Homo sapiens: one gene and its partners. The protein of the gene in region 1 purifies or fractionates together with the protein of each later gene. This does not show direct contact. Each region holds a gene or a part of one and is shown in the gene's direction. Other genes may lie near its edges.

What was found. Proteins that work in one complex are often made in the same cells at the same time.
Region 2: the proteins of ETS1 (region 1) and CHI3L2 purify together in Homo sapiens (affinity purification with mass spectrometry; one large-scale study listed by BioGRID and IntAct). This does not show direct contact.
Region 3: the proteins of ETS1 (region 1) and FOXO1 fractionate together in Homo sapiens (co-fractionation; one study listed by IntAct). This does not show direct contact.
Region 4: the proteins of ETS1 (region 1) and MEIS1 purify together in Homo sapiens (affinity purification with western blotting; one study listed by BioGRID and IntAct). This does not show direct contact.

What each region holds. Positions count from the first base shown.
Region 1 is NC_000011.10:128,580,204-128,585,289, reverse strand, and holds part of ETS1 (protein C-ets-1), read left to right. Parts: intron 1-361; exon of another isoform or gene 362-2,293; intron 2,294-5,086. UniProt on the Homo sapiens protein: Transcription factor. Directly controls the expression of cytokine and chemokine genes in a wide variety of different cellular contexts. May control the differentiation, survival and proliferation of lymphoid cells.
Region 2 is NC_000001.11:111,240,827-111,243,940, forward strand, and holds the end of CHI3L2 (chitinase-3-like protein 2 isoform a precursor), read left to right. Parts: intron 1-500; coding exon 501-617; intron 618-1,400; coding exon 1,401-1,538; 3' UTR 1,539-1,540; intron 1,541-2,390; 3' UTR 2,391-2,614; downstream 2,615-3,114. UniProt on the Homo sapiens protein: Lectin that binds chitooligosaccharides and other glycans with high affinity, but not heparin. Has no chitinase activity.
Region 3 is NC_000013.11:40,562,142-40,565,641, reverse strand, and holds part of FOXO1 (forkhead box protein O1), read left to right. Parts: exon of another isoform or gene 1-2,953; intron 2,954-3,500. UniProt on the Homo sapiens protein: Transcription factor that is the main target of insulin signaling and regulates metabolic homeostasis in response to oxidative stress.
Region 4 is NC_000002.12:66,567,625-66,571,124, forward strand, and holds part of MEIS1 (homeobox protein Meis1), read left to right. Parts: intron 1-1,042; coding exon 1,043-1,132; intron 1,133-1,425; coding exon 1,426-1,484; 3' UTR 1,485-1,521; intron 1,522-3,500. UniProt on the Homo sapiens protein: Acts as a transcriptional regulator of PAX6. Acts as a transcriptional activator of PF4 in complex with PBX1 or PBX2. Required for hematopoiesis, megakaryocyte lineage development and vascular patterning.

The sequences.
Region 1 (5,086 bases):
TTTCTTTTCTTTTCCTTCTTTCTTTCCTCCCTCCCTCCTTTCTTTTTCTTTCTTTCTTTCTTTCTTTCTTTCTTTCTTTCTTTCTTTCTTTCTTTCCTTCCTTCTTTCTTTCTTTCTTTCTCTTTCTTTCTTTCTTTCTTTCTTTCTTTCTTTTCTTTCTTTCTTCTTTCTTTCCTTCCTTCCTTCCTTTCTTTCTTTCCTTTCTTTCTTTCTCTTTCTTTCTTTCTTTCTTTCTTTCTTTCTTTCTTTCTTTCTTTTCTTTCTTTCTTCTTTCTTTCCTTTCTTTCCTTCCTTCCTTCCTTTCTTTCTTTCTTTCTTTCTTTCTTTCTTTCTTTCTTTCTTTCTTTCTTTTCTCTTTTTTCTTCCTCTTTCTTTCTTTTCTCTCCCCTCCTTTCTTCTTCTTCTCTCTCTCCCTCTTCCCTCCTCCTTCCCTTTCCTCCCTTTCTTTCTTCATTATGGAAATGATAAAGTATTTAGCATTTGAGCAAAATTAATGTGGTATGCAGCAATTTAGTGGCATTTCAGGCAAATCTTTTAAGTTTCTTCAATCCTGGGAAAAATTAGATGTGAAGACATAACTTACTTTTTGCTTCCTCATCTCCTTTATCCCTGCTGTACTGAAAGTATAGCTTATTGAACTCCACCTTTTAATGTAGATGATTTTCTAGTTATCATATCCATTCTTCTTCATTTCACCTAAGGAGGAATACTCAGCCCTAACGTTTACTGAGCACTTGGTATGTTCCAACATCCTTGCTAGGTGCTTTGCAGGGACTGCTTCATTTAATCTACAATGAAGTTTTGAGGTGGGCACTCCACTCTCGTCATCCCCATTTACCAGGTGGGGACTCTGAGGCTCAGTCATATGACCGTGTTAACTCATGGTGGACCCTGATTAGAGCCAATGGAATGTGAACCCAGAGCTTGTGATTGGAACTGCATGTCATAGGAATCTAAGTAACTCTAAGACATTTACACAAATTTAGGATAGATTTTTCTGCTTAGACTGATTTGCTTATCTAGGAGAACACTGGATTAAGCCTGTTTTCTGAAGTGGTATCTGTGGATTACTTATTCATTGTTATGAAGATACTGACTTTGAAGAAAGACTACCCAGGCCTAGTTTCCTGGGTAAGTAAGTCAGTCCCTTCCCTGACAAATATCAGTTTTATTTCTACTCCATGCCCAGCCTTGTGCTGGAGACCATACCAAACACAGAAGAAACAATATGTAAACTCCATTTTTAAAATTAACACAATAATCTTTACTAGAAAAGAGGATAAAAATGAAAGACAATATAATTATTAAGTAGTGTAGTATAACCTATACATGCTTTGGGAGTTCAGGTAGAAAAAAATGGTATCTAGAGCAGTGAGGGAAGGATGTTTCTGATCTGCCTTTTTTTCAAAAGAGGATAGATTTCATATTCCAGTAATCAAGTGTTGGAGCTGCCTTCAGAACTTAGAGGGAACAGGCTGGGTAGTACTTACTAGCATGAGAGTAAGCAACAAACATTTAGTGCAAATGTCAGGAAAATATTCTCAATGGGGAGGAAAAAATATATAAATTTTCAAGAGATGTGGAAAGGTAGAAAACTCCAGAATTTTGGTCTTTTTAGAGATTTAAAAGAGATTTAGTCTTTTTAGAGACTTAAAAAAAACTTTTCACTTTGAAATAATTCCAGATGCATAAAAGTTTGCAAAACAATGTACAAAAAGTTTCCAAAACATGTGAGTCTTTTACAATTGTAAAAAAAAACATATAATGCAAATAACTCTTTTAAATTATCTCTTGGCACCTCTTGTAATCCTTAATCCAAATGACTTCTGTTGATGGGAGAAAGCACCATTGCCAGTTTCTTGATAAAAGGGACCAAATAACTAGAACCATGTCTTCTTAGGAAAAGCAAGAAGTCTTGGCAGATGTGCATCTGGCATATGGCTCCTGAGACACTGACAGGTCCTGAGCTACTCAATTCTCCCCAGCCGGGTTTGTATTGCACCTGAGGTTACCAGCATCTGCTCAGCCTTGGCACAGAAGTCTTGCCTGTTCCTCCTTGGGCTCTGCCTCCTAAACACCTACCTTGTTATAATCACTCATGAGTTCAACCAAGTTAGTCCAGCGCTGCCTTGCTACTCACAGTGAAGTCCTCTGACCTGCGGCATCAGCACCACGTGGGAGCTTGTTAGAAATGTGGAATGTCTGGCCAGACCTCAGACCTACTGCAGCAGACTGCATTGTAACAGGATCCCCGGGTGATTCATATGCACATTACAGTTTGGGAGGCACTGCTCTAAAGAAAAAGCAAAAACAAATGAAAAAGCAAAAATGAAAAAAATGAACAAACAAGAAATCTTGCACTATTTTCCGCAGTGCTTTACTACTTCCTTATATTTGTATCTAGTTGCTAAAGCGTAAGTCCACAAAAGATCGACATTATATCAAAAAGATGTTGGTTTAACTCAGGAAGCTGCAATATTTCACCATTTGTGCTATGCAATCTTTCAATGAGTTAGTTCTCCACTGTAAGAAAAATGCTTACTTCTTGGTTTTATGCATAACAATGGTACAAACAGACTACCATTAAACAGAAATTGTGGCTCTTTTCTCCTGCAAAATTCTTGACTAATGCTACTCAACCTATGATTATGAAAGGGAATCCTGTTTTCATGACTTGAATACAAGTCTTTAGAAAAAGAGATGAGAGATTTAGCTATCCATGTTCTAGCTCTAACACTTAAATAACCTCTGCCATGTTGGGCAGTAGAAAAAAGTAATTAATATAAAACAGTAGTGTTACTAATTAGTGACATTAGTAAGCATTTACTAATGCTTACTAATTGCCAGGCACTACTGATAAAATAGCAATAATAACAATTATTATTTATTGACCATTTTTACTATTTATACAGCATGCTGCTAAGTATTTGTGTTTTGTATGATCCTCCTCTATAATCCTGAAAGTGTTGATATTATTACCTGCATTTTATAGTTGAGGAAACTGATTGTGAGGTTAAGAAATTTGCTCATGGCCATACACGCAGCAAGCAGTTCTACGTTCACCCATAGTATGTAACTCCAGGGTTCTTGATCACTGCTAAACACGTAACCTCTTAGGACTCAGTTCATTGAAATAAATGAGAAGATTGATGAATTTTTTCCAACTCCAAAATTCACTGGAATTGCACAATCCCTCTTTATATAAGAATGCTAGCAAGCTGTTTAGCATTATACTGAGAAATTGGAACCTTACATTTCGGGTAATAAAACAAATGAAACTCCACCATGAAAATCACAATCAGACATAGTCCAAGAAGTTGCTTGCTGGATTTGAGAGATCTAAGGCAGCTGGTATCTTTTAGTTCAATTTTAAAGGGGCATTATTGCAACTATCCAGTCCCCTCTCATTGTTCTTGTAATATCTCTTTCTATTTATGGTGCCTCTCAGTTTTGTTGAGAATTCCTTTAGAGCCAGAGCCAAGTCTAAACTCTAGATTATGTCTGACATGCTTCACAGGCTAAGAGTCTGTAATGTAATTCTTTAAAATGCTAGTCTCTTCAGAGGTTTCATTGGCAGCATTCATTGGATTAGAGTTGACGTTTTTAATCTCGTGGCCCTTCTTTGCATTTGACTTGGAAAACAATCTCTTATTCCATGGCCTCTATTACGACCATTCTTGGAAAGCAAAGAGTACTCTACATTATTCCTCCAGCTTATTCTTTTTTTGTTTTGAGGTTCGAAGTAAAACACAATCCTTATTTATTTATTCAGTTATTTATGAGTACTTACCATGCTTCTGGCTCAGGAGTACATCCTAAGGCCAAGTGTGATCATTTGTTGAATTTCATGGTAAAATACAGGATTTGAGGCATAGCATTTGTACACAGGCTATGGCCACTTTTATGGTAAGGCAGTGTATTGAATATTACCTTTGATCTTCAGGAAGATGTTCTGACAGAAGTATGATTGACTAGAAAGTGTAGATTGTTAGTATTTCAAAGGTTTCAGAGACTAGAATTGGCATTTTCTTAGTTAGATTCCTAGACCTAAGAGTCGGCAGGTTTTAATGTATTTCCTTGATGCCTAGGAGAAGCAAGACCTTTCTGTCCATTGTTGACAATGCCATTTCAGTACTGTATGGTGAGGGATTTGTTTCCACTGAGAAGGAAATGCATAAAATAATCTATGAAGCATTCCTTATTTCTTAACTGCTATGGTATACCAGAGTAAAACATCTTCTAGTCTTTCTCTTTTTCAGGAGATAGTAGCGAGTTACTCCTCAAGGAAGGGTAAAACAATATACTCTTTAAAATTATAATGACATGAGTTCATTTTAATATTCTAAGAAGGATTCGTTGAGCTATGTCAATTCATACAGGACTTGAAAGTGTTATGCTTAATTAGGAGATGGGTTTATTTTTAGAGAAATAGGAGATGGATATGACTCATTTCCATTTAAGCAAGGGTTGGCGGAATAATTATAGTGAAGTTGTGAAGAAACAAAGACTGAGATGTTAATTGTACTGTGAGTTGCTGCTCTGTAACCTTAGTGAAAGAATAAATGCACTTAGCTTAAGACACAGAAGACAGTAGCCCATAATTTGGAACACAGCCTTCATTTGTCAGTGCTGGCTACTTAAAATAAGAAGGAATATTCACTACTACTGTAATGTTGGATTACTTAGTCAAGCAAATGAGGTTCTTGTAGATTTAGTAGTGAGACAGAAAAACCATCTTCAGTTCTTCTAATCCTTTTTCTTTTCTATGCGTTGTAACCACAAAGTTTCCATGGGGAGTAAGGAATGTTCAGCTTTCCTAGATATGATGGATCTTAAACCTGAGTTCTTAGAGAATTGGATTTGGGAGCTTTTGTTACAGTGACAGGTCAGGGAAGACATCTACTCAAATGATTTGGGAAATACACGTGGGCTACTCATGAGAATCAGAAAGAACACACTGAAGGAGTATAGATGAACTCATCAATCTGGTACATCCTATAGTTTAGAGAAAAGTGCCATCTTGCTTGTAGTTAACTCTTGAGAAGCCTAACCTCAGGGTCACACAAGGACACACTTCATCACAGGG
Region 2 (3,114 bases), on another chromosome or scaffold:
GGAGGAGTAATAAGATTTAAGTGGAGATGCTACAAGATGAGGAATAGTGGTGATGGTCATGATAATACTTCACTTTAGAAGTAGAGCACTTTACTGTTTTCAAAAAAATTTTTTAATGTGTATTAGTTCATTTGATCCTAACAACAACACTGTAAGGTAGATATGTTGAAAGCATTATTATAATTATTTCCATTTTGCAAATGAAGAAATTGGAAGATTTATTGGTCGGTGCTGGGGTCTGATCTGGAACTCAAGTATTTTCTGATTTCTAGCTGCTGTGTCTCCTCCTGATGAGACTTTAGCACAGACACTTCCTAGAGGTTCACCTTGGAACACCCACTTCATATGATATATGTGGTCATTTCTCTCATTGTCTGATCCTTGGGATAAAGGTTCTGATATTTTCCCCAAGTCCCTAGTGGCTCACCTGCCCTGTCTACCCCAACCAAGTTTCAAGAATAACCCATTACTGACCCTCTCGTTTCCCTTTCCCCTGCCAGATCTGCCAGTTCCTGAAAGGAGCCAAGATCACGCGGCTCCAGGATCAGCAGGTTCCCTACGCAGTCAAGGGGAACCAGTGGGTGGGCTATGATGATGTGAAGAGTATGGAGACCAAGGTAGGTGGGCCACAGGCAGATACTCCTTTAGGTGGGGAATGGTGATATGTAGTAAAATGCCTGAATACTCTATGTTCAAAGAGAGAAGCTTCTGAGGCCCCAGACTCTAGGATGGGATCCAGCAGCCTTTATAGCTCAAGTCTAGTAGTGACTCTATGTCACACCCGCGAGCAGCTGTGGTACAGGTAGAAGAGTTGGAAAGGACGCAAAAAAGAATTGAGAACAAGTAAGTTTATTCTGATAAGTGAGGAGTGGAGAGAAGAGTAAGGCAAGGAGAAGGGAGAGGGAATAAAGGAGACGTTGGTGCCTGTATAGATAATCTACTTTGTTAATTATCTCGGGACAAACTGTTCAGTCCTTCTCATGGATTACCTAGCTAGGAGGCTCCAGATTCCTGAGCCTACCAGTTCTTAGACCTTGGTAAGACATTTGTGTTCCTTTCATGGTTAGAACAAAAAGGAGGCTTGAGTGTAATTGACAATCCTGGCCACTTGTCTTGTTAAGGGCTTCCTAGTTTCTTCCCTTATTATGGAGAGTTTTCTCAGCCTCCAAGAATGCCGGACCTTGAGTGTGGTGACTCAAGTCAGAATGAGATGTAGCTAATGCTGATTTGGTGGCTCTCTCTCCCTGAGCAATCTTACCCCTCAGGAAGTCTCTAACTCCAGAAAACCAGTTAGTCTACTGCTGTATTTTAAGCTTAGTCCCTCATCTGAACCTGATATGGTCCTGGGCATTTAGGGGCCACCCTTCGAATCTCTGTGTATCCTTCTGTGTCTCCCATAGGTTCAGTTCTTAAAGAATTTAAACCTGGGAGGAGCCATGATCTGGTCTATTGACATGGATGACTTCACTGGCAAATCCTGCAACCAGGGCCCTTACCCTCTTGTCCAAGCAGTCAAGAGAAGCCTTGGCTCCCTGTGAAGGTAACAGTCCAGGCTGGAGCTGGGAGTGGGCAGACAGCTGGGCAGAACAGGGCACAGGAGACTGGGGGAGATCATCTTCACATATTTGGACTAATCCTTTCTCATGCTCCTTTGGCTCTTCTGCCATGTTTTCTTAGCAATTAGGCTGGTTCTGCCCTTTTCATAGGCTTCCCATAGACTTTTAAAGTAATAATAATAATATTGATAAATTTTGGCTACCATTTATTGAGCATAGTATGAGCTAAAGACTTTCATTACATATATATTAGGGATAAATATTGACACCACCACAATTCTTGGTTACAAAATCATCAGCCTGTCTTAATTTTCTAAATCACAATAAATCTGACTCTATGTCCTCAATTCACTGGACTGATGATAATTTCCATCTCACTCATTACCTGAGGCTCTTTTCCCCCACCCACAGTTGATCTTACTTAGTCTAGACATTTGGGAGCTCCCATGGTCATTATTGCTACGCCTTTACCCAAGCCTCCCTATTACCTTGAAGGTCGGTGGCTTTGCTGCTGCTCCATCCCTGGGCCCCCAGTTCCCTAGGTGCGTTGTATATCCTCCTGTGCAGATGAAGGCTGTTGCTGACCAAACAGTTATGCTGTGATACATTGGTTCTAGGGCAGAGGGTGGAGAAGCAGGGCGCTGGGGCTCACTGCAGACAGACAACTAAAAGACTGGCTCTGCTATCCTGGCAAAGGGCCTAGAACCATTTGAAAACTCCTGATTAGATAATTGGGTAGCAGCCTTCCAACTCTGAGCATCCATTGTTTAGTAACTTGACTTAGGCCTCAGTTTACTGAGTTGGGCTTTGAAATATTTTTCCTTTTGTTTCCAGGATTAACTTACAGAGAAGCAGGCAAGATGACCTTGCTGCCTGGGGCCTGCTCTCTCCCAGGAATTCTCATGTGGGATTCCCCTTGCCAGGCTGGCCTTTGGATCTCTCTTCCAAGCCTTTCCTGACTTCCTCTTAGATCATAGATTGGACCTGGTTTTGTTTTCCTGCAGCTGTTGACTTGTTGCCCTGAAGTACAATAAAAAAAATTCATTTTGCTCCAGTAAGTATGGCCTCATTTATTCAGTCCTTGACCCTGTGATATCAGGTTGTTCTGTCCCTGCTATTTGTGGGATCCAGAGCTAGGGTGAAAACGAAGTTTTGCATATCATGTTTAAATATTAAAAACAGCTAACATGCTGTTAAAATATGACTTATGCTCCAACATTAACACATACAACTTTGCAACCACCTAGAAGGTCAGAACCTGAAAATTTAAAATTCTCAGACTCCTTAGAATACCACACCAGAATTCCCATCTTTGCCTCTGTCTCTCACAGTAGGAGCCTCATGGGCATACTTGTGGACATTGTAGGCTTTGTATCCAAGCTTCATCTGCACTCTACCCTCTACCCTCAACCTCCAACACACAAACCCACCCACACACACATACACCTGCCTCTGGGCTATGCATGTGCACACCGGCGTTGTGGTCCACTCTCAGTAAAGATGGGCCCAGGGAAAAGTCATGTGCAGGCTCTGAGAGAGCGCACAGGCTCTTCTGGCT
Region 3 (3,500 bases), on another chromosome or scaffold:
GGTGCTGTGAGGATACAGTGTACAAGAAGACAGACAAAGGTCCCTGTGCTCACTTGAGCAGCTCACAGTGTAGTGGGAAGTCAGGCATGCCCCCCCACCGCCCCAGGGATCAGACATAGTGGAATCATAAAGAGGGGTGAGTAAGTAAGGTCCCATGTTAGAGCTGCAGGATGGGATGAGGTCATCAAGAAATGCTTCTGGAGGGGCCAGTTGGGCTGAGACAGAAGCTGGGGCATGGAGGGCAGGGTGGCAGCCTTTGGAGAGAAAAGGTCCGTGTTCCTGGACAGTCTATGGGTTGTGTCATCCTATTAAGTGGCTCTTTACGTGTACTTATTTTCTCCCCAGGTAGATCAAAAGCTTCTGGAGGGCATGTTCTGTGTCTCATTCCTTCATGTCTTTCGCTACTCCTTCCACAAAATAGTTTCCAGTAAATGTTAGTTGACATGAATTGGTACTCAAATGGATGGTTAAAAGATGTGTATTGTGTAAGACACCATATCTTCCTTGTAATTTTTTTGGGGGTCAAGCAACAAACAGTTATTGAGGCTATGATATTAGAAATTAAAGACAAGCTTTAGCCCATTTGCTCTTTAAGGAACTCAGAATCTGAACATAGAACAGCCAGCAGAGCAGGTTGAACAAGCAAGTACACCATGTCGGGGTTCCCCGACTACACCATGTCGGGGTTCCCCGACTCCCCCATCTGTGGAGCTCATTGGGTCAGGCTTCCCAGGAAGCACATGCTGCACTGCTTGGGGTGGCCAGGCATGCAGATGGCAGATGGGGTGTGTGCAGAGGCTTGTGAGTGGGGCTGCAGAGAAACAAGCTAGTGGAGAGGAGATTGGCTGGCTTGTGTTTCTCTAGTGCCGTCATGTAGAAACGCTGGATTTGGGCAAGTGATTGACAGGGCATGAACCTCTGTCCTGACATCCTGCCTCTGTCCTCAGGTAATATTTGTTGAGAGTTCAAGGGCATAATATTTCAGAGCCCAGCAGTCTCACGCGGCTCTGCTGCGAAGTCCTTCTGGTGAACTGCTCTTCCATCCAGCCTCTCCTGTGGCCAGTAGGGGAGTGCAGACACAACGTCGTTAATAGCAACACATTTTTACAAAATTTACCTTTTCAAACCCCACCCCCTAGAAACCGTAGCTTCTTTAATGTCCCGCTGGCTGTGTGAAAAACAGGAATTTATGTAACAAGTCCTGCACAGCAAACCTTTTCCTGTTCGGAAAAAATTTTAATTGTTGGCAAAGTTAGGAAACAGCTCTGTTACTCAAAGAGCGACCTGAAATGTCCTCTTAGAAAAATATGTAATATGATGTTTTGATAAGTAGGAGACTGCTGTGGCTTTTTTTTTTTTAAAGTCTAAATTAGTATATGTCCCACCTGAGTTAGTGAACGCTTCTTGAATGTTTTAAAGATTTCCTTATTATGTCTCCTGCAGTCTTTTTAAAAATGACCCCCAGCTGGGCTTGCCAGTGATCTGACAGGCTTATCATGAATGTTAGAGAGCTTCACCCCCTCTCCCCAAGTCAATGCAACAACCAGGAAGCTTCTATCTGGGAAGATCTTTCTTCCCCCTTTATCATTAACTAAATGTGACAGGGACAGGAGTCAAGCTTCCTCTCCTCCAGAGATTTCATCGGAGCTTATCTGTGTGTCTATTGTGTTCAAAGAACAAAACTGTCATGATGGAATATTGTGCAAATGCCTGGACTTCCAGTGTATAGAAAATGTCAGGGTCAGACTGCAGGGCTGCATTCCAGTGCTACCCCAAGTGCGGGCCTGCTGATCTTAAGGAGGAATTAAGAACTCGGTTCGGCTGGGGTTGGTGGGTACAGCAGACAAGGCTGTGGCTCTGTGAGCATACATGTGTGTGTGTGGCGCCTTCCCATAGGAATTTGGGGATCTTAGGGGAATGCAATAGGATGGGAGGGAAATGTACTCCCTGGCCTCTTTTAGGGATTCTTGTACCTACTCTAAGCCCCTGGCCCTCCTCACAGCGTGTCTCGAGGTGAGGGTAGATCTTGGGTGTGGAGGAAGGTGGGGATTCTTGGGAACAGGAGACAGTCACTGCCATCACCACACACCTGCTCCGTTCCAGCCGGGAATCTGGGGCTCCGGTGGTGTCTTCCCCGCTCTCACACTTCACTGTATGCTCTGGCAGGAGGGCTTGTCACGTAGCTGCTGTGTTGAAATCTTTAGGCGGAATGCAGTACAGAGAGTCAGAGGGCGTTTTGAAATGTGGATTTCTCAGCCCTGACTGCTGGGCCTTACCCTGACTTTTGCATCTCCCTTTAGAAAGTGAGACCCCTCCATTTTCTCTCTTCTACCACCTTTTAATGAGAGAAGACTTCTCTCCCAGTTTGTGTTGGAGCCAGGCCTCATCCTGCTGTGCAGAGGCTCTGCTCAGGCGCAGTGGTTGGCACTCGGGCCCGGGCGTCCCATGTCAATGGCATGAGGATGTGGGCGCTGTGGCTGCACCCCTGGGTGACCACAAATCCAGCCAGAGCCTTTTTGTGGTTGAGAAGAGGGGCCGCAGAGATGCAGGGGGCATGGTCAGCTGAGCCTTGCATCCAGTTGGCAGAGGAGGCCAAGAAAGCTGGGAGACTGTGCACATTCCAGGGTCTTAGGGCACCCAGAATCCCACTCCTTGGGAGCAGACCTCTGAGGAAAGAGGCTGCTGAATGAACAAGGTGTAGTGGCTGTGTGCCCTGTACTGTGCTGGGGGCCAGAAGCTATAAGACAAGGCCCTTCCTTCTGGGGAGCTCACAGCGTTTCCCTCGTCTCCTTTTCCACGTGTCCCACGGACTCCCCTGAACACCATCTTACTCTGTGTTGTAGAGGAGGTGAATCAAACCATGGCTTTCTCATCTGCAGCCTGGCTCTGGTGTTTCTGCTGAAACTTGGAGAGACCACCTCTGGCCCCTTTCACCATATATTTGCAGTTGTGGGTTTGTATCTGTACTACTTCTAAGCTCCTATACATACCACACTGAATAGGAATAGAGAAGCAGGACTTTGGGGCGCAGGATACCACTATTCTAAGTTGGGGTCTAATATTCCCTTCATGGTGACTGCTTACATGCCAGGCACCGCTGAGCATTTTTATGTATCTCATTTAGTACATGTAACAACCCTGATAAGGCTCTGTAATTTAGCCCTGCTTTACAGGTGAGGAAACTTAAGACACATTAGGGGCTAGGCAGCTTCCCAAGGTCACCTAGGTAAGTAAGTAGCAGAGCCACCCAGGAAGTACTCAAAAGAAAGATTGTTGGTTTTTCTTCCCTAGTTGGCCTAGGGATGATAAACATGGCATGATTAGTTATGAAGCTGCGGTAGCTTGAGAGTTAGAGCTCTTTGCGTTCTCTGTCATTTCTTCCCATCCCAGGTTGTCTGTTTGGACAGTGTAGCCCCTGGCTACGTGGAGGTGTGTCATGGAGTTAGTTGGTGCATCCTGCTCATACTACTGGTCATTGGTAGAACTGGAGGGTAGGGGCA
Region 4 (3,500 bases), on another chromosome or scaffold:
TGGCAATTAAAATTAAACCAGTTTCGTTTCATAACAACACTAATCAATTTAACATCATTATAAAACGTTTGGAGAAGGTGGAAAAAAAAAGCCAACAGAGAAAAGTAACTCTTAAATAATATGCTCAGTTACAATATTCTTTGTACACATTCAATATATTAATGTTATTTTTTTTCTGAGTTTGCCTTCCCAGCTCTTTCTGCTACTATGACCACTCCCTGGTGCATGGCTTGGTGTGGAATTGCTGTAAACTTTATTACCTGTCAAAAGGGCAAAGGGGTCAGGATTGCTTGTGGGACTCAGTAAAGTTCAAAGACATTCAATGAGGTAGAGCTTTTGTGTGCTTTAATAACCCAAGGCAGCTTACTTCTGAAGCAGCTTTTCATGTACAGTTAAAACACGGGATTCAGGTAGTGGTATAAATACATGGTTCTTATTTCTCAGACCTTCTCTTGTTAATATCCATCTTCTGGTGTTCGACTTTTTTTTTTTTTAATAACAGTCTTTTTGTTTTGTTTTTAAATTATGAGCTTAAAATGGCGATACTTCTATGGGATCCTGGCTTGTGGATCTAAAAATCCAAGAAACATCTCTCTAGGATTTGTTTTTGCATTATAATATGCCAGTAAGATAACAAGAGTATTTGCTAGGGGTGATGTGAGTCTTTACTTTCTTTATGAAATACTCTCTCATCTCTTAGGGAGCACTATGGAAAACTATGTTAGCATCGCATTGAGGCAACACACATTTACTCCTGTAACTTTTTTTCTTCCAACACCCATTATGTGGTCACCAGACAAAACCCAAGCAGAAAGTTTCCACACCTTAACTGTTCCCTCTTTGAGCTAGATGTTTTAAAAACTCAGTCACAGAGGTGTGTAGATCTAGTCTGAGAGAAATTTCACTTTGAATGTTTAAAAAATTATACTAGCCTGCTATGTTCTGTCTCTTTCTCTGGTATGTTCTCCTCTTAGTCTCTCTTGGGCTATTTCTTTTGCTCTCAGAGACTGTTATTAAAAAACCACATTCTGTACTTTTGTAGTAAGTCAAGGAACACCTTATAATCCTGATGGACAGCCCATGGGAGGTTTCGTAATGGACGGTCAGCAACATATGGGAATTAGAGCACCAGGTAAGACTTTGTTTTTGTGGTAGTTCCTCATTTTTGACTCCAAGAGTGTCATCCCCTCATCAACACAGGTAAATCCGCCTCATCCTTTTCTGTTATCTCAAGCTGGCTGCCTTGCCTTGTCTGCTATCTGTGCATCTAAGATATTGCAGAGGGGAAGCCAGGATCTTTATGCACTGAAGATCTCACTATTTCTCAACCCTCTAGATCCTGTTTTTTTTTTAAGGGTCTTTTGGCACTATCTGTTGACTTTGCTCATTTTCTGGCCTCTTCTTGGATTTTTATCTCCCTTCTAGGACCTATGAGTGGAATGGGCATGAATATGGGCATGGAGGGGCAGTGGCACTACATGTAACCTTCATCTAGTTAACCAATCGCAAAGCAAGGGGGAAGTAAGTACAAATGGGGTCTTTGTTTTCACTTTGTCCTAGGAATATTTTTCCTCTTGCATTTTCTTATGTTCTCCTTGCCCATAGCTTCATGCTTGTTCATTCCTTTCCATTAAACTCCTGGTTTCTTGCTTCCATCATTTTCTTTTTGGTTGTGATCAAGCTTTTAAGCTTATAAATACTGTGTATGATGTACATTTATCCTGTGTGTTGCTATTGTACAGTACTGACCACATGACAAAACAAGAAGCAGTCAGGAGGTGGGGGAGTGGGTTGTCATAGCAACAGACTGATTTGCAAAATGTAAGCAGTCTGCAGCAGTGCAAGGAGAGGGAAGAGCATGTCCCCAAAGTGTCATAAATCTGTCTAACCGCAGTTGATGCATGAGTTACATTTCTACACTAACCTGCAAGACACCGAAAAGCTAAACAGAGACTTCTTTTAGGTAAAATAAACACAAGCTTTACTTAGGGTAAGTAAAGGCATATTTTGAGCTCCAGTCAACTAAACTTTGATTTTTTTTCTTAGTTTATTCCTTTGTCTGTCCATCATAATGGGATTACGTGTGGCAATGGGAAAAGGGAGAATACAAAATAGAGGTGTGCACAGCAGGCTGCGGGGCTTAGCCCAGGCTAATTGACTATATCCAAATTAAGTATGCCATCACTTGCAGTGTGACAAATGGATTTGACTTATTCAGTATACAAAAATAGAGATCATTAATGCAATCATCAGTGGCAGGCCTAGTGAAGTGGGCCTAGGAAAACTGTCCCAGATTCTCACTCTTGCATTTTCTCTCCTATAAAGACACTCCAGCAATTCGAGTTCAAACAAGTAAAACTGTTTTGAACACCAAGGCTCTTGTTCACTTCCTAAATTACCCCTAATAGCACTGTTCTTGCTTTGTTTTTGAAATTAAAAGCAGTTATTTCAGAGTCTTGCTTGTGTCTCTGATTATATTTATGCACTATTTAAAATCACTGCTGAGGCCAGGGGTAATTCGTACTGGTCATCTTCTCTGGGTGTGAGTCAAATATAAGTTTAACAATTAGCTCTGAAAACATTCCATTGAGCTGGGGAATGCAACAGTCTTATTACCTCATCATGGAATTCTCTAGCTTAGTTAATTTAAATATTGTTTCTTAGTTTCTGGGTCAATTAAATTTAAATGATGTATTTTATGCTTCGTGACCAATTAAATTACTAGGTTATTACAAAAAAAATTATCATCTTTTTTGATTAAAGAGCTGTGGGTACAGTATATTTTATAAGCAATTTTCATTAGTTCAAAAATGTTCCTTTAGGCTAGATTAAGCAGCCATTCATTGTTAGAGCCTGGAGACCTTATTCGAAGGTGTTCATCGTATTCACAGTGCACTATTACTTAGAACTAAAGCCAATTGAACCTACTTAGCAATAGCGTTATGCCTTTCACCCTTGATGATTATGGAGCTTATAGCTCTCAGAAACAATACACCTGTCAGTTTCCATCAACTATAGCAATCCATGCAGAAGACAAGAGGCCCCCTCAAAGCAGGAGGGGTATTGTTTTAGGTCCAATTTTTCTTATTGTTCTCAAAATCATTATAAGGTGGACAGTGTTTTGTGAAGATTTTCTTTTCCCCAGCTCTAAGAAACCATGTGGAAAGAATTCATTGATAACTGTTTTGATTTTTTTCTTTTTTTAAGTACAGGTTTTGCTAAGTAATCACCCTTAGTGAGCCTGTGTAGTTCAGCTGCCTGTGAGATGTTTGGTGACCAGCTCAGTGTATTCTTGTATTCTTGATAGAGAATATTTCAGGAGACAAAAGTGCTTCTTCAGACCAGACCTCAAATAACAATTTTATTCTTTTTAATAAATAAGACCTCAGTAGGCGGACCTGATAACAGTGACAATGAAAGGAAAATAGTGGCAAAATGTGAGTTTCCAGCATGATGTTTCTCATTTTATTTTCTTCTGTATGAATCAAAAGAATGCTTTA